Homo sapiens: one gene and its partners. The main gene of each other region encodes a partner of the protein of the gene in region 2 in a complex. Each region holds a gene or a part of one and is shown on either strand. Other genes may lie near its edges. The genes, in order: UBE2G2, AMFR and VCP. A codon is read from its position in the direction of its gene.

What was found.
Region 1: the proteins of AMFR (region 2) and UBE2G2 are in contact, whole or in part, in an NMR structure (PDB 2LXP), measured with the Homo sapiens proteins. Residues at the interface, in NP_001135.3 of Homo sapiens: Ser574, Ala575, Arg578, Gln579, Met581, Leu582, Arg585, Lys586, Leu589, Leu590, Ala593, Arg594, Arg596, Phe597, Leu598, Lys600; in NP_003334.2 of Homo sapiens: Tyr13, Leu16, Thr17, Pro20, Gly23, Ile24, Val25, Ala26, Gly27, Pro28, Met29, Asn30, Glu31, Glu38, Leu40, Met42, Glu45, Glu50, Phe51, Val53, Val159, Gln160, Leu163, Gly164, Leu165.
Region 3: the proteins of AMFR (region 2) and VCP are in contact, whole or in part, in a crystal structure (PDB 3TIW), measured with the Homo sapiens proteins. Residues at the interface, in NP_001135.3 of Homo sapiens: Arg625, Arg626, Arg627, Met628, Leu629, Ala630, Ala631, Ala632, Ala633, Glu634, Arg635, Arg636, Leu637; in NP_009057.1 of Homo sapiens: Asn33 (codon at 5,826), Asp35 (codon at 5,820), Ser37 (codon at 5,814), Val38 (codon at 5,811), Phe52 (codon at 5,582), Arg53 (codon at 5,579), Gly54 (codon at 5,576), Asp55 (codon at 5,573), Thr56 (codon at 5,570), Ile70 (codon at 5,528), Leu72 (codon at 5,522), Pro106 (codon at 4,347), Val108 (codon at 4,341), Lys109 (codon at 4,338), Tyr110 (codon at 4,335), Glu141 (codon at 4,242), Ala142 (codon at 4,239), Tyr143 (codon at 4,236), Arg144 (codon at 4,233), Ile175 (codon at 2,847).

What each region holds. Positions count from the first base shown.
Region 1 is NC_000021.9:44,767,997-44,770,922, reverse strand, and holds the end of UBE2G2 (ubiquitin-conjugating enzyme E2 G2), read left to right. Parts: 3' UTR 1-2,343; downstream 2,344-2,926. UniProt on the Homo sapiens protein: Accepts ubiquitin from the E1 complex and catalyzes its covalent attachment to other proteins. In vitro catalyzes 'Lys-48'-linked polyubiquitination. Involved in endoplasmic reticulum-associated degradation (ERAD).
Region 2 is NC_000016.10:56,401,546-56,408,545, reverse strand, and holds part of AMFR (E3 ubiquitin-protein ligase AMFR), read left to right. Parts: intron 1-429; coding exon 430-582; intron 583-3,301; coding exon 3,302-3,342; intron 3,343-3,504; coding exon 3,505-3,637; intron 3,638-5,427; coding exon 5,428-5,561; intron 5,562-6,702; coding exon 6,703-6,813; intron 6,814-7,000. UniProt on the Homo sapiens protein: E3 ubiquitin-protein ligase that mediates the polyubiquitination of lysine and cysteine residues on target proteins, such as CD3D, CYP3A4, CFTR, INSIG1, SOAT2/ACAT2 and APOB for proteasomal degradation.
Region 3 is NC_000009.12:35,062,458-35,069,642, forward strand, and holds part of VCP (transitional endoplasmic reticulum ATPase), read right to left. Parts: intron 5,906-7,185; coding exon 5,794-5,905; intron 5,607-5,793; coding exon 5,434-5,606; intron 4,361-5,433; coding exon 4,218-4,360; intron 2,925-4,217; coding exon 2,794-2,924; intron 1,829-2,793; coding exon 1,697-1,828; intron 624-1,696; coding exon 521-623; intron 1-520. UniProt on the Homo sapiens protein: Necessary for the fragmentation of Golgi stacks during mitosis and for their reassembly after mitosis. Involved in the formation of the transitional endoplasmic reticulum (tER).

The DNA of each region.
Region 1 (2,926 bases), on a different chromosome or scaffold from region 2:
GGTTCCCTGTGGGCCCCATGAGGAGTCCATTACTTCCTTTCTTCCTTCATATTTTACAGGCAGATGCTTTTCTTATAATCTAATTACATCTTTTCATTTGTTATATATTACAAACCATCACACTTAGAAATACTTCCAGGAAATGCTTTTTTGAAGTGTGAATTAATAAGAAATGGGGTAAATAGAAAAGAAATTTATTGCTGATTGGCCAGGTGCGGTGGTTCGTGCCTGTAATCCCAGCTCTTTGGGAGGCCAAGGCAGGTAGATCACAAGGTCAGGAAATTGAGACCATCCTGGCTAATACAGTGAAACCCCATGTCTGCTAAAATTACAAAAAATTAGCTGGGCGTGGTGGTGCACGCCTGTAGTCTCAGCTACTCAGGAGGCTGAGGCAGGAGAATCGCTTGAACCCGGGAGGCAGAGGTAGCAGTGAGCTGAAGTCCCGCCACTGCACTCCAGCCTGGGCAACAGAGCGAGACTCAGTCTCAAAAAGAAAAAAGAAATTTATTGCTGATCACAAGGACAGACAGTTTTTTCCCGACCATACTCATCAAAGATTTACGTTTGTATATTAGTAACTAGTGCATTACTAGAGCAGGTGCAGGTGAGGTCTTTAAAGTTTCAATGAAAGTTTCTTCTGGATCTACAGAAAAAATTTTTTTTTTTCAATCTAAAAACTGGAAATTCTAGGGTTTTTGTACATTTTGGATGCACTGGGAATTTATTAGCACAAAATCATTCTTTGCAACTCAAAATTCAGAAGGGACTCTACCATATCTTAGCTCAGAGCACAGAGGAGTGCCTTATCCCCACACTTGACTGGGCTGTGGAGGTGGGCATGTGGGCCCCTGGGCCCAGGCTGGGGACAGAGCCCTTGTTTTGTGACTTAGGATTTTGATGTGGTTCCCATGTTCTCTAACAGGGCCAGCTGAGCAGCACAGGCCAGGAGGCCACAGTGTAAGCAATAACAGATCTGCCACATGCAGAAGCAAATATCAGGCCTGTCGCACACGGGCGGCATTTAAATAGGAATTTCTATTTTTGAAATAAGGGATGGTCTATGAGGCATACAGTAGATTTGATGTGATCCTTTTCTCCCTCCCTTCCATAATGGATCGTGGTCTGTGTGACTGAACCCACACAGAGTGTCATGGGTGACAGTTTCTGGTTGAAGTAGCTCCACGCCTGGCTTCTGTGGACAGCAGATTCTTTTCCTTCTCACAAGGGGCTCATTTAAAATTTGGAGGCTGGGTGCTGTGGCTCACGCCTGCAATCCCAGCACTTTGGGAGACTGAGGCGGGCGGATCATGAGGTCAGGAGATCGCGACCATCCTGGCTAACAGTGAAACCCTGTCTCCACTAAAAATACAAAAAATTAGCCGGGCGTGGTGGCGGGCGCCTGTAGTCCCAGCTACTCTGAAGACTGAGGCAGGAGAATGGCGTGAACCCAGGAGGCGGAGCTTGCAGTGAGCTGAGATCACGCCACTGCACTCCAGCCTGGGCAACAGAGTGAGACTCTGTCTCAAAAAAAAAAAAAAAAAAAATGGAACGCAGGGCAAGAACTCGTATTTGGAAGGAGATGGGGGAAAGGAGCGGTATTATACCTATGTTGTATTTGCAGGCAAATGAGATGGAGCCCTCTCTGTAAAGAAGAGTCATTTGTGCAAGTAGACGGGGTCTGTGGGTGCAGGCCCTGGAGGGGCACACAATTGCCTGGAGGCTTCTGTGAGATCGGGAGAGGGAGGAGAGGCAGTCTCTTGACAAAATAAAGTATTTTTATTCATTTGTATTTATTAAATGAAAAAACAATCCCATGGTGTCCCTGTTGTGTGGTGGAACCTAATGACTGTTGAAATAAAGTTCTGTGTTTTCCCTGCCCTGCAGTGTGTGTCCCTTTGTCGTATTGTCAGAGGAGCCTGTGGCCACTGCCCCCAGGGAGCACACCAGATCATCCCAGCTGGGATTCCTCACGGTGGGGGCTTTTCTGCAGACTTGGGTTAGCTCTGGCATGTTTTCTTCTGTTTCTGATCTCCCTTCTGTCATTCTGTGGTCTTCCTCTGGAATTCTCAGGTTAGTTGGGGTCTGTGAGACGGATGTGTTCACTAACCTATAAATGACATTTTGCAGCTTTTTCAGCAGATGCCATTGTGTGAGTGGCACATTTGACCACTAGAAGCCAGCAGGCTGTTCCGACTGCGCTTCCCTCCTGCAGTTGCTTAGAAGCACAGCTCCCTGTCATCACTCCTCTGTGGTCCTCTGTGGTCACGGTTGGTTGCGATGAGACCTGCCTCTGCGTCTTGTTACTTAGCATGTCAATAAAGAGGCAGATTCCTGTGTCAGTGATTTGCTGTTTCTGTTTTGGTAGTTGGCGGTCAGCTTTCCTTTGTAATCCTGTGAGGCAGGGTCCCCAGGCTTCCCCAGGTGCTGGCGCCTCGTTCCCTGGGCTGGTTCCCAGGCTGCTCCTGGTGGGGTGCACTGGGCGAGTGCCTCAGCACAGGCCCCCAGGCATGTCTGTTCTGCCCTTTGCCCAGTGTTCTCACTAAGCATTCTTTTTAATGGGTAAGAACTCTAATGTGATACTGAGTTGGGGTCCCCAAGACCACCCAGGGCGGCGATTCTCCAGGAGGACAGAGGCCATGCAGGTCACGGTAGTCACGGCTGTGATTTCCCACAGGGAGGACACTGAGCAAAATCGGCCAAGGGAAAGGTTCCTGGGGCCGAGTCCAGGGGCACCATGCTCAGCTTTGGAGGCCTCTCCTGGGGTGGGGGTCACGCAGGATGCGCCTCACTCCCCTGCAAGCAGCTGGGACTCTGCGTGTGCGATGTTGGGGATGCCCTGCCTGGTGATGTACCCGGGGGCTGGTCACGTGAGCAGCTTCTGCCTGGGCTGCGCTACAATTCCAGACTCTCAGCAGGGATGTGAGTG
Region 2 (7,000 bases):
CAATTGTGCTAGCCCTAATAGACTAGGAATGCCAATTTCAGAGAGGAGGACTAGAGCAAGATTGAGAAAGAAACAGAACAGAACAGGCACTGTCCTGAGTCCTGTTGAAGGTGAGAGGAGAGAGTTGTATACCCTCGGAACATTGCTTCTAGAGGTTTATAATCCCAGTGCTAGGAGGATCTTTGAGAGTAAGGGATGAAAATATAATGCATATTGTTATACTCAGTAAATTAAATGACACGGATCTCTAAATATCACCTCATGCTCATATTTGGGTTATTGGAGAATAGGACCATATAGTAATGGGATGCTTTTCTGTGCTTAGCACAGAACCCTAAGCAGAGAAGCCAAGATTGACCTTGAATTTCTCAGTGAAGTTTAACACTTCCATGAAGAAGAATGAGCAGTTTCCTACTGTGTGCATTTCAGCTTTCCTTCTCGCCCACCACGCCGATGAGCAGCCACGGTCGAGTCCTGTCCCTGTTGGTTGCCATGCTGCTTTCCTGCTGTGGACTGGCGGCCGTCTGCTCCATCACCGGCTACACCCACGGAATGCACACCTTGGCTTTCATGGCTGCAGAGGTGAGATACTGGATGCAGGACTTGCTCAGATTGTATTTCTGTCTGTTTTCAAGGAAGCTGGATGTTTGACAAGTTATTTTCACCCATGAAATGACAGGTGGATATTTGGTCTTTCATTTTAACAAGCATTTCAGTTCCTTTTTGTGTGTTGGGTACTGGTACTGAATGCTTTTGTGTGGTATTTTATGTAACTCTTTCTTTACGTAGGGTATAAAGATTTTACAAAATAATGAATAAACTGTACTCATCATTTTGAAGGAAAAATCTGGTCTATTCATGAATATTTTAAGATTTAAAAATTTTTCACTCTTTTAAACCTTTCTGAAAATACCAATTTCTGTTCAGTAGAAATAAAAATTCTCCAGCCTGGCCAATATGGTGAAACCCTGTCTCTACTAAAAATACAAAAAAAAAATTAGTTGGGCGTGGTGGCGCACGTCTGTAGTCCCACCTGCTTGGGAAGCTGAGGCAGGAGAATTGCTTGAACCCGGGAGGCGGAGGTTGCAGTGAGCAGACATTGCGCCACTGCACTCCAGCCTGGGTGACAGAGCGAGACTCCATCTCAAAAAAAAAAAGAAATAAAAATTGTTTGTATGTCCTTATATTTAATGGCTATATTTGCCTTTTCTTCAGGCCAAAGGCAAAATACTTTTATCTTACCCATAATTAGTATTATTAATTAAAAAATGAGATATTAGATAAACTGAAGCTAATTGGCTAATATCAAAACACTACATTTGAACTACTCATTGGGAATTTGGTAGAGCAGAGTTAAAGTTTATTTCTGTTTGATAGCATTCATTTTTGAGTACATTTAGTAGTGTAAGTAAAATTAGAAAAGAAACATTTAAATACATAATGTTAATTATCATATTATAATATTGTAATTAAAATACAATAGTCCTAATATAAATAATAAGATATGTAATCTTAGGTGAATACTTCTGTATATGAAAAATATACAACCGTATTTCGTCTTGACAGAAAATCTGTTGAAAAATCCATTTACACTGACTTATTTGCTTTAGATTTATTGCAAAGTTAGAATGATACTTATGTTTGCCTTTTTTTGATTCTCTAACTTTCAACTAATATAATATTATCCAAACTTTGAAAAGGGTATACCTAAAAATAAGCACATTTAACTTAGGCCCGTCAGCTCATACTATAGTATATACTTTTATTTTAGCTTGTTACTGTTTATTCTTTTAAGATAATTTATCATATTACAGATTTGATATTTTAAACTAAATCATTTCTTACATTCATAGTGTTTCTCTCTCCTGTAAAATATTTTTCACTTACAAATGGGAATTTAATCTAAAACATAAATAATGTAATAGTTTTATTCTACTAGATTAAGAGGACTTTTTTTCTTAATGAAAAATATCTTTTTTTTTTTTTTTTTTTTGAGACAAGGTGTCACTCTGTTGCCCGGGCTGGAGTGCAGTTGCTTACTGCAACTTCCACCTTGTGGGCTCAAGTGATCCTCTCATTTCCTTAGTAGCTGGGACCACAGGCATGAACCACCATGCCTGGCTAATTTTTGATTTTTTTGTAGAGATGGGGTTTTGCCATGTTACCAGGCTGGTCTTGAACTCCTGAGATCAAGCAGTCGGCCTGCCTCGACCTCCCAAAGTGCTGGGATTACAGGTGTGAGCCACTGTACCTGGCCGTCAATTTCTGTAATAAAAAAAATACCCTTCAAGACCAGCCTAGCCAACATAGCAAGACCTTGTCTCTACAAAAAAAAAAAAAAAAGCCATGAGAGACTTATTTTGTCCCTCTCCTCTCCTCCCCTCTCCTCTCTCCTCTCCTCTCTCCTCTCCTCTCTCCCCTCTCCCCCCTCCCCTCCCCCCTCTCCCCCTCTCCCCCCTCTCCCCCCTCCCCCTCCTCTCTCTCCCCTCTCCTCCCCTCCCCCCTCCCCTCTCCCCTCTCCCCTTCCACTTCTTCCCCTTCCCCTTCCCTTCTGACAGGGTCTGGGGTCTGGCTCTCTCACCCAGGCTGGAGTGCTGTGGTGCGATCTCTGCTTACTGCAGCCTCCACCTCCCAGGTTCAATCCATCCTTCCACCTCTGCCTCCCAAGTAGCTGGGACTACTGGCACGTGCCACCATGCCCACCTAATTTTTGTATTTTTTGTAGAGATGGGGTTTCACCATGTTGCCCAGGCTGGTTTTGAACTCCTAAGCTTGAGCAATCCTCCTGCCTCGGTCTCCCAAAGTGCTGGGATTAAAGGTGTGATGTGGCTGGCCTTATTTTGCTTTTGATTGCTTTCGTTCTTTTTTCTGCTGGTGGACAAAGGGAGTGCACAAAGCACTAGGGAGAGAGCAGGTCCTCGTGTCTAGGATAGCAGTACCTGAACTATACTTGGAGTTACAGCATCACCCTTCTAAGTAATCAGTGATAGTGACTTAATGCTGTGTGAAATAGAATTGATGGTCAGACTACCAGGGTAAACCTCAAGATTGTAGGGGGATTCCTGGGGGGTAGGTGTAATTGGTTGTCACCTATTAACAGGACTTTTCCTCAATAAAAGTTGGGTTTCTAGGTCATAAAAATATTTTACAGAAATTTGAAGCAGAGAAAATAAAATAATGGGTAAACTTGAACAATCTGCTTTTTAATTGAACTGAGAAATGTTTGTCTTTTATCATTTTATAAAAAGTTTGGCCTGAGCAATGCTACATTTTACTAAAAAGAAAATATCCTTTTTTATAGTCTCTTCTTGTGACAGTGAGGACTGCTCATGTGATTTTACGGTGAGTGAAATTGGGGAGGGAGGTGATGGAGGCCTACTCATACAGTTGATTTTAAGATGTAGCAGGTATGAAATATATAAAAATCGGACTAAATTACAACATGGTTAAACCAAATTCAGTAGTAACAGTAAATTACTAAGGTGTTTTCTCTCTTCATTACAGATACGTAATTCACCTCTGGGACCTCAACCACGAAGGGACGTGGGAAGGAAAGGGGACGTATGTCTATTACACAGACTTTGTCATGGAGCTCACTCTCCTGTCCCTGGACCTCATGCACCATATTCACATGTTGGTAAGTTTCCTCAGAAGGAGCTCTAACAGAGGGCAAGCCTTTCAGAATCAGGAACAGTAATGGTTTCTTCATTAAAAAATGAAACTTTAGAAATAAGATGTGGATGGACTACTTAAAGACTAAAAATGAATGTGGCTGCAAACCCTCCCTCTTTTTGCCACTGGGTGTAAGGCAGTGCCATGGAACTGCTTTGGCTGGTGCCTAACTCAGGAGGTGTTTGCTGTCCTGGGAGACTTAGTTAACTCTGCTGACCAAGTCAATAGATTATTCTTTTAGCATGAAATTAAGGAGCTGCCTTTCCCCATAGTTTCTATGGCTTTAAATATTTAGCAGGTACTTTGTAGGTGGTAATGGGAATTCCTGCAGTGTTAGCTACTTCACAGATTTATACATTTTCCATCTTTGTAATTAAAAAAAGTCTTTACACTTAATTCCTACATTCCTACTACCATCATTGTTTACATTTTACTTTGGTATGTTAGACGTTACGGTGTCGTAGATCTGCTTCATTGGTTGGCCCTTCAGTGATCTAATAATGGTGAGAATTAAAATAGTTGGTGGGCAATTTATTTAAATTATAAGCCTAGCAAGTAGCATTTTAAAATTATTGGGCTAGACGTGGCACATTTCTAAGTCTACTTTTTGAAAGAAACTTTGAAAACATACTTTTTAAAGAAAGTATGTAATTCTTTTTTTTAAAAAAGAGCCTCGGCTGGACGCGGTGGCTCATGCCTGTAATCCCAGCTACTGGGGAGGCTGAGGCAGAGAATTGCTTGAACCTGGGAAATGGAGGTTGCAGTGAGCTGAGATCGCGCCACTGTACTCTATCCTGGGCGACAGGGTGACACTCCGTCCCAAAAAAAAAAAAAAAGCCTCCCTCCCCCCTCAAAAAGGGGACAAACAAATGGCCAAAGATAACTGTTAAGATTTTTTATCTTCTTTTTTTAAATTTTTTTTCCTCATGCTTGTATTTTTTGTATTTAACTGCTTCTTTTTATGTATTTTTTGTATTTATGTATTTTGTATTTTTATGTATTTTGTATTTAACTGATTCTTTTTATGTATTTGAGTACATACATTCATAAATTGAGATCATATTTTAGACATATAGTTCTGTTCTTTAAAAACTAATGTATTATGAACATTTTCCTGTGCTAACATCAGTTCTTCTAAGCCATTTTAATACTTTCAGGATAAAAATATCATCAGATAGCTGTACCATGATTTAATAAACCGCATCCCACAATGGGTTATTTAGATTATATTTGGTTGTTTGCTATTTCACATTTTACATATTTTTTATCATGTATTAGTTTGATAAAGATAGTTATATCTTGCTTTTTTCATTTATCTAGTACTATCTTCCCATAATTGACCTTCAGAACTGTTATATATACAAATATAATAGTAATATGTAGTTATATAGTATAATAAGTGAAATTAATGACTATATAATTTTACATTACATGAGTTTACAACCTAACTGTTCTTCTGGGCATTTTGTTCATTTTCATATTTTCTGTTTTATAATTGCATGGATAGACATCTTTTTGCATAAAGCTTTTCCATTTCTGATGAGTTTCTCAGGAAAGATGACTGGCATTGGAGCACCTAGGCTGACGAGGATGTGCATTGTTTAGAGTAATGAGATAAATCTGTGTATTTCCTTTCTGAAAGACATTGCAGTTCACCATCACCAACAGTGAAGAGCTTCCGCTGCATACTGCGCCTTCATCACTAGCAAGTTCACGTTCGCTTTTACCGTGTGTTTTATTCTCTTTCTCTCTAAGTTATTTGGCAACATCTGGTTATCCATGGCCAGCCTGGTCATCTTTATGCAGCTGCGTTACCTGTTTCATGAGGTGCAACGTCGAATTCGTCGGCACAAGAACTATCTACGTGTGGTTGGAAACATGGAGGCCAGGTAAGGAAGCACAAGTTGATGTTGCCTAAGTTTACTCATTTTAGTTTTTTAATAACAGCAGATCCCAGAGTATGTCAGAATGTATGTTTGTAAACTGCTAATAGAGTGGTGGAGAGGAAAGGCTCTGGAGTCAGACTGCCCGGGTGTGAATCCCCACTTAGGTGCTGTGTGATTTGGGGCAATTTACTTCACCTCTAAATTAGGGATGAAAACAGAACCTTCTGCCTGAACTATTGGGAGAATTTGGTGAGATAATTCATGTACTTAGAATGGTACTGGGCAGATAGTGCTCAGTATTAGGCTCTTATTTGTCATGATTTTATTGTCATTATTATCAAATAGACACTTCATTGGGCTTCTACCCTGTTCATTTCCTGAAAGTGGGTCTCAGTTCTTTGCACATGCATGTTTACACACACATACTTAACCTCATTGAAGGAGGCACTTTTTTGCCAAGCTGGGGCTAAGCCACGCCTGGAGGTGCAAGATTAATGGGTATCCTCTTTGCACCCAGGGGGACAGCTTGGATCTCTTCTTTGTGGCCAGGGACACAGATTGGATCTCTGGGGGCCTTACTCCTCTGATTTGTCCGGATATGGTCTCCGAGGTCTTCACTAACAGCAGCCATTATTATTATTATTATTATTATTTTGGAGATGGAGTCTCACTCACCCAGGCTGGAGTGCAGTGGCACAATCTCAGCTCACTGCAACCTCCGCCTCCCAGGTTGAAGTAAGTCTCCTGCCTCAGCCTCCTGAGTAGCTGGGATTGCAGGCGCCTGTCACCACGCCCGGCTAATTTTTGCATTTTTAGTAGAGACGGGGTTTCACCATGTTGGTTAGGCTGGTCTTGAACTCCTGACCTCATGATCCCCCTACCTCGGCCTCCGAAAGTGCTGGGATTACAGGTATAAGCCACCGCGCTCGGCCTAGCAACCATTATTTAGACAAAGTTCCTGTGCATAAGTTACTCACTTTTGAAAGGGCTTTGAAGGTAAATTATATTTTTGATTATCAAGAATGTTTTGCTGAACATGCTTTCTCTGTAACTGTGTTGTGATACAGGCGCAGTCTATCAAGTGGTGTTTAGTGTGCGTGTGGAACTGACTGAGGTTCCTGCTGGGCTTGTTTTGTTTCCACAGGTTTGCAGTTGCAACTCCAGAGGAGCTGGCTGTCAACAATGACGACTGTGCCATCTGTTGGGACTCCATGCAGGCTGCGCGGAAACTGCCCTGTGGACATCTTTTCCACAAGTAGGAGCTTTGTGAAGGGCCATGTGGGACAGGTGTTCTGTCCAGGGCGTGTGTGTGCTTTGTGTACCCAGGCTCGAGACTCATCCTAGTGGAGGAGTGGGGACATTACCTCAGCCTGGCCTTGCTGCTGGCACTGAGTGTTCTGGGAAGCTCTTGGGTATCCTTCTTTGTTCCTTAGCCTCTTCCC
Region 3 (7,185 bases), on a different chromosome or scaffold from region 2:
AGGTGGTAACCTCTGCCTACTTCTCACATCCTCTACCAGCCATTATCCCAGGACAGCCACCAGGCAAGGCTGGAGAGAAGCCCAGGGACTCACTATACTCTTCTCACAGTTGAACTGTAAAGGTGACAGCAAATGCTCTAGGACCTCTGGCTAGAGCAAGAGAGATGGCACACCAGATGGCACACCACTAAACAGCATTCTCCAAGAGCCAGTGATCAAAGTTCATTTGCCCCAAACCCTCTCAAATCACTAACCATTCACCCTTTGATTTCTCATTCTAGCTTGCTCCCGCTCTGCAGTCTGTCCACAATCTTTCTCAAAGGGGGCAGGACAGGGAGCACCAATGTAAAATATCTTCCCTTTATTGCTCTTCTGTCTGTAACATACCCCAGCATAAGAAATATGCTATAAACATGAAGGAGGGCATGGGTGCAAAAAGGATGTGTTCATAAGTGCTCCAGCTCATAAGCCCAGTTCAAAATTGGGTCTAGCTAGACATAAGATGAACCAAATATCTCACCATTGATCAAGAAGAAGAAGGCTCCAGTCTCATTTGCTACAGCTCGAGCAATCAGGGTCTTTCCTGTTCCAGGAGGTCCGTAAAGCAGGATTCCTCTAGGAGGCTGTGGACCAATGCAGAGTGTGATTAGGTTCCCACCTTCTCCCAAACCCTAAAATGGCTTGACTAGCGCTCCAGAGAGGGTGAGAATCAGGCTTCAACCCTGACAATATTAAGAATAAGCCCTCCGCAGTAAATGCTAAGAAGACAATTACTTTAGGCCACACTCATTTCTATTACTAGCAGGGAAAATACTGCTAGAAAGTGGGCAACATTTATGATTGCAACTTGCATAGGAGACTAAGGGCAGAGAAACTGTAGTCCAAATGCGTTTGAAGATACATGACTAGGGAAAGGCAAGAGGCCATTACACTAAGGGCTCAATTTTAGACAGACCAAGGGCCAAAGACTAGCTAAGCCATTTAAGAGAGCAGGGTCTATTTTCTTCATTGCCAGAGGATCACTCACTCCAGTAATCATGCCCTCCAGAATTTATCACACTGGAATGCTGTTCCTTACAATCATCATTTTTCTTCTTCAACACTACCCTTTCTATGGCCTCATCCACAAGCAGAACATGTAAACTGTCCACATAGAAAATGAAATTATTTGTGTGCCACCCACTAGGAAAATGAGTAACTTCATCTTCAGTGTGTTCCATGGAAACACTTTCCCACTAGGAAAAGATTGAGAAGCTACACTCTAGACCAATAGTTCTCAAATGTTTTAGACTCAGAACCCTTTAACACTCTGAAAATTTCCTTAACTTCCTTACTTCTACTGGGTGACATTGCTCTAGACAGGCTGGCAAACTATGGTGAGATTTGTTTTTACAGGGTCCATTGATACAAGAATGGCTTTTATATTCTAAGAGTTGTAAAGAAAAACCCATATATATATGTGTGTGTGTTTTGTGCGCACACGCACACAACAGACAATTTGATTAGCCTACTCTGGTTTTAGACCATCAGCTCTAATGAATTTAGAGCCTTAGGTAAACTAAAGGATACGTTATTGCCCCTCTAATCCAAGGCAATAATGAAAGCCATGCATGAAAACAGTCCCAGGATTAGACATTGGGACAGGATTAGACATTGGCACCACTTTAGACTTGATTCCAGAGCCCAGGATGCTCACCTTCACACCAATTGCCTTAAAGAGGGCAGGATGTCTCAGGGGCAGTTCCACCATCTCCTTTATCTGAGCTAGCTGCTTCCTGCAGCCACCAATGTCATCATACCCTACTTCATTCAAGGACTCTTCCTCATCCTGAATATGGAGGAGATAAAGAAAGGAGAAGGCAAGAATATTATATCAGCAAAAGCTGAGTTTCTCTAAATCATTCCACTACCTAGTGTGCAAAAACCTACCGTATAAGAAGATTCTCAACCCGGCATGGTGGCTCACATCTGTAATCCCAGCACTTTGGGAGGCAGAGGTGGGAGGAATGCTTGAGTCCAGGAGTTCCTGGGCAATACAGCAAGACTCCATCTCATTAAAAATTAAATTAAATTTAAAAAAGATTCTCCTCTAAAGGGATCCGGCCTCAAAGAACAACTACAAAAATCCCAAGGCAAAGATTTCTAGCACAGTCCTTGCCTCTCACATTACTCGTAGTCTTACTGAGAAGGGGTCTCTAAAATCTGAAGCTGGAAACCCTGGGAATGGGCAGAGGCCTGAAGCCACCATCAGCTTTACTTCAAAAATGATTTCAATCACTTATATATTTTGGGTTCAGTCTAGTTTTTTGAAATTCCTGGCATTAGGTAAATCCAAGAAACAATTAGGCCCAGAAATGAATAGCTGGCAGGTTTCTCATCCCTGAAAGATGGTTAGTTCTCCAAAGAACACCCAGTCTTTTTCTTTTTTGAGACAGAGTCTCACTCTGTCACCCAGGCTGGAGTGCAGTGGCACAATCTCAGCTCACTGCAACCTCCGACTCCTGGGTTCAACCGATTCTCCTGCCTCAGCCTCCTGAGTAGCTGGGATTACAGATGTGTACCACCATGCCTGGCTAATTTTTGTATTTTTAGTAGAGATGGGATTTCACCATGTTGCCCAGGCTGGTCTTGAACACCTGACCTCAAGTGATCTGCCCATCTCAGTCTCCCAAAGTACTGGGATTACAGGTGTCAGCCACCGCAGCCGGCCGAGCACCCAGTCCTGACAGTTACCACATGATGCCACACTGAGTAATCATAAAATCGGATACTGGAATCAGGGAGAAAACTCACCTCTCGTTTGATAGGCTCCCCTTCGCAGTGGATCACTGTGTCTGGAGCAACAATGCAATAAGGGCTAGGATCTGTTTCCACCACTTTGAACTCCACAGCACGCATCCCACCACGGACAAGAAAAATGTCTCCTGCGAGAGCAAACAGTACAAGCACAGTTAGAGGTGTCAACTACAAGACAAAGTGAGAACTCATCAGACCCTGGGGTCAAAATGCCAAGCTCATTAGATAGTGCCCTTCATTAGATATTGCCCTACCTCTCCCCAACTCCACCCCACCTGTCTTAATAAGCAGCAGGCAAGATGAGAAAGGTAAACTGTGAAGAGTCCCTCTGACAAGAGGTCAGTGAACAAAACCTGACATGTCAGAAGCCCATCAAGTTCTGACTTCTGCCATATAGGTAGCCCAAGTTTTCACTACAACCACCAATGGTAGAACTGTGCACTCTGGACCCTGACCCAGCCAAAATGGACCACTTTCTCCTTCAGAGATCCATAAAGATAGCTTACTCTCCTGGAACAGAGAAGGGGAGAGATGGAGCAAAGGAAGGATGGAGGAAAAAAAGAGGGTAAGACATATGAATATGTGTGCAGGGTTTGCATGTGTGTGTATACAAATATATGAAAATGAGTCTAGCGGCCGGGCACAGTGGCTCACCTGAGGTCAAGAGTTCGAGACGAGCCTGACCAACATGGTGAAACCCCGTCTCTACTAAAAACACAAAAATTAGCCGGGCGTGGTGGCAGACGCCTGTAATCCCAGCTACTTGGGAGGCTGAGGCAGGAGAATTGCTTGAACCCAGGAGGCGGAGGTTGCAGTGAGCCGAGATTGCACCACTGCGCTCCAGCCTGGGGGACAGCGCGACACTCTGTCTCAAAAAAAAAAGAAAAGAAAATGAGACTAGGCTTGATGGCTCATGCCTGTAATCCCAGCACTTTGGGAGGCCATGGCAGATGGATCACTTGAGCCCAGCAGTTTGAGACCAGCCTGGGCATCATAGTGAGACCCTGTCTCTTTTTTTTTTTTTTTGAGACAGAGTCTTGCTCTGTCACCCAGGCTGCAGTACTGTGGCCCAATCTTGGCTCACTGCAACCTCCACCTCTTGGGTTCAAGCAATTCTCATGCCTCAGCCTCCCAGGTAGCTGGGATTACAGGTGCCCACGATGGGGTTTCGCCATGTTGGCCAGGCTGGTCTCAAACTCCTGGCCTCAAGTGATCCACCCGCCTCAGCCTCCCAAATTGCTGGGATTATAGGTGTGAGCCACGGTGCCCAGCTGACCCCATCTCTTAAAAAATGAATAAATAAATACAGGGGAAAAGCATAAAAGATTTAAAAAAAAAAAAAGAAAAAGAAAATGAGATAAAGATGTTCCAAGGTTTATTCCCTACAGTCAATAATCCTTAAGCTCAGAATTAGCTCTCACCTTTCCGGATGGGTCGATACGCTTCCAGGAAGTACGGCTTAAGGTATACCTCGAAGAGATTACCAGTAATGCCTTCCACTGTGTCATCAATGGGCAGCACATGGATACGTTTGCCGTACTTCACATCAGGGCATGGCTGGATGCTGAGGATGACAAGCAGACTCCATATTACCAACCACACTTCGGGCCCAAGCACTGGGTGTCCAAAAGGGCCTGGCACAGATAGCTGATAGTAAGTGAAAAAGAAAAGGCAGGATGGCTTTAGGCGAAGAGAGGAAGGAGAACAGGGTGGAAGTGAGGGCGAAGGAACAGCCCCACTCACTCCTAATCAGTGAGCCAAAATCAAGAGCCACACATTTAGAAACCCCACAAAGACATGCAGGGTCTTCAGGGAGATATCCAAGGATGATCCCCTTCTAGCTAATACTGGTGACCCAATATTACAAGGGAAGGTCTTAAGCTAACAATTGTCAGGGTCAGTGAAACAGAAGTGAAAAAAACAAAATTATCTCAGCCAGGTGGTCAGAACACCTTGAGGAAGTGACTAAGCACTCCCAAGAAGAAAGCTACATGAAACTTAGACTCCATTCAAAAGAATCAAAAGCCTGAGATGATCCTGGCCAGGTGATGGTTGGTTGGGTAGGAGTGGCTAGAGATGACTCCAAGATGGGGTAACCTCTTGCCTAAAATTATGCAAGAACAAGCAAAATCACTCACATTGAGAGCTATCCCAGGTCTGGCTCCAACTATTCCTCTCTCCCGGGTTAACTTAGGGGCTTAAAAGACCTGCTAGCAGCTCACCTTCCATGCCCATACCCCCACCTCATTCCAACCCCAACACAAGCCATCAATTAGACATACTAGTGAGAGTAGTGAGGAGATTATTTGGCATATACATACACACCCTCGAGTGGTATCCTAAGCCAGGATATAAGTATGATAAATTACACCTCTAGTAGGAAAAAATAAAGCCATCAAGAAAGTTACAGGAACGCCAATTTGTCTCAAGGGACCTGCAGAAATGGATTTTGAAGTCCCAGGGAGGCAGAACCAAAACCTAAAGACAACCCTGAAGCATAAGTCTTCCCATGACCAGGAGGCTTCCTGCATCGACAGGTGCCAAGAACTTGGTCCTGCCTGTAATACATGGGTCCTGCCTGTAATGCAGGCTATCTCTGGCCTCCCATCCCTGTGAAGCCAAAAACCCCACACACACCTGATGACATCCCCTAGGCGTACACGAAGGTTATTCCGAACAACTCTATTCATCCGAATCTTCTCATCAGAACAAGTATCATCAGAAAGGACGATGCAAACAGCTTCTCGTCTCTTCTTTCCTTTCAGCAACACTGTGTCACCTCGGAACAACTGCAATTCATCCATCTTGGGCTGAGGAAAGAAAGTTAAGGCCTTTGGGTCATTGGGCTGACGGGGAGTAAGCAGCAGCCCTGGAGATTGGGATTCCCAGTAAACCCCACTCTATCTGCAGTCACTGCAAGAAAAATGAGAAAAGAAACCTGGGAAAATCCCTCAAGTAAGTGCAGTAAGGAAAGACTAGTCTGTGGCCACAGCTTACCTGGGACAAGGACACCACACTGTTGTCCTCATTGATGGCTTCATCAACAATTAACCGATTGGGACGGTTCTTCTGTTTGAGAATGGCTGTTGATAGGTCATCACCTTTTGAACTAGAAGGAGGAAATGGAGTCAGTAGATACTCCTGCCCCAAGCGCCTCGCCAGTCTCTAAAACTCATACTTAGGAAAGAAACAGTGAATAGATGAAGCTGTCCCTAGACCAGAAAGCTCAGATGAAGGAAAGGCAGCCAAGGTCACGAGGAGCAGTATCTACCATACATATTACAATACCCATTCCAGCAGCTCCTGGTATTTTGAGCGTCAGTGTCCCAGCTATAAGGCCCCAAGTGAGTGATCCTGCCCCAGGGTCAGAAAATAATGGCCTAAGAAGAAGACATAATAGAAATGGAGGCTGAATAGTTGTTAGAGAAATAAAAATAGTCTTAGACTTACAGAAGAGTGGTTAAGAGCAGGAACTCTATAGTCAGACCCATTGGGTCTGAATTCCAATTATGCCACTGCTTAATTGTGATCTTGGGCAAGTTACCTAACCTCTGAACTTTGATGTCCTCCTCTATAAAAGAAGGAATATAATACTTATCTCAGAGGCTTATTGTCTTAAGGGAGATAATGAATGTAAAATGCTTAACATAATACCTGGCACATGGTATTAATGGTCACCATGATTAACAGTATAGAGTAAAGCATAAGCTAACTTTCCAGGGAATTAAGTAAGCCAGACAACCTCCCTTGAGGCTCAGGGAGGCCTTAAGTTCTACCAAGCAAGCCTGGGGACAACGAAGCAGAATCATTGGTGCTACCCTCCTTATAGGCTAAACCTACTGATGCCAGGGCATTCCATAGTACCAAAGGAATGCCAAGCATAAAGACCATCATATTTGGAAAAAACACTAACAGACATCAAACCGCCAGAAAGAGGCTCAAGGTCAAAAGGAACTTCACAGTAATATCTGCAAAAGTACACAATTCCATAAAGTTGGCTCAAAAAATCAAAACCAAGAAATGCTGAGACATGGGGCAAATCCAAATCCCTCTCACCCAAATCAAAGTCGACTGGGTCTACACTCAGTGTTATTTCCTAGAAGCTAGGATCATTCACCAGACAGTGACACCAACTTATTACCTAGCCCGTTTCCAGCTGTCACTTACTAGACTCAGCAAGCTCCCTCTCCCTTTTTTTTTTTTTTTTTTTTTTTTTGAGATGGAGTTTCGCTTTTGTTGTCCAGGCTGGAATGCAATGCTGCGATCTCAGCTAACTGCAACCTCCACCTCCCGGGTTCAAGTGATTCTCCTGCCTCAGCCTCCCGAGTAGCTGGGATTACAGGCATGCGCCACCACACCTGGCTAATTTTGCATTTTTACTAGAGATGG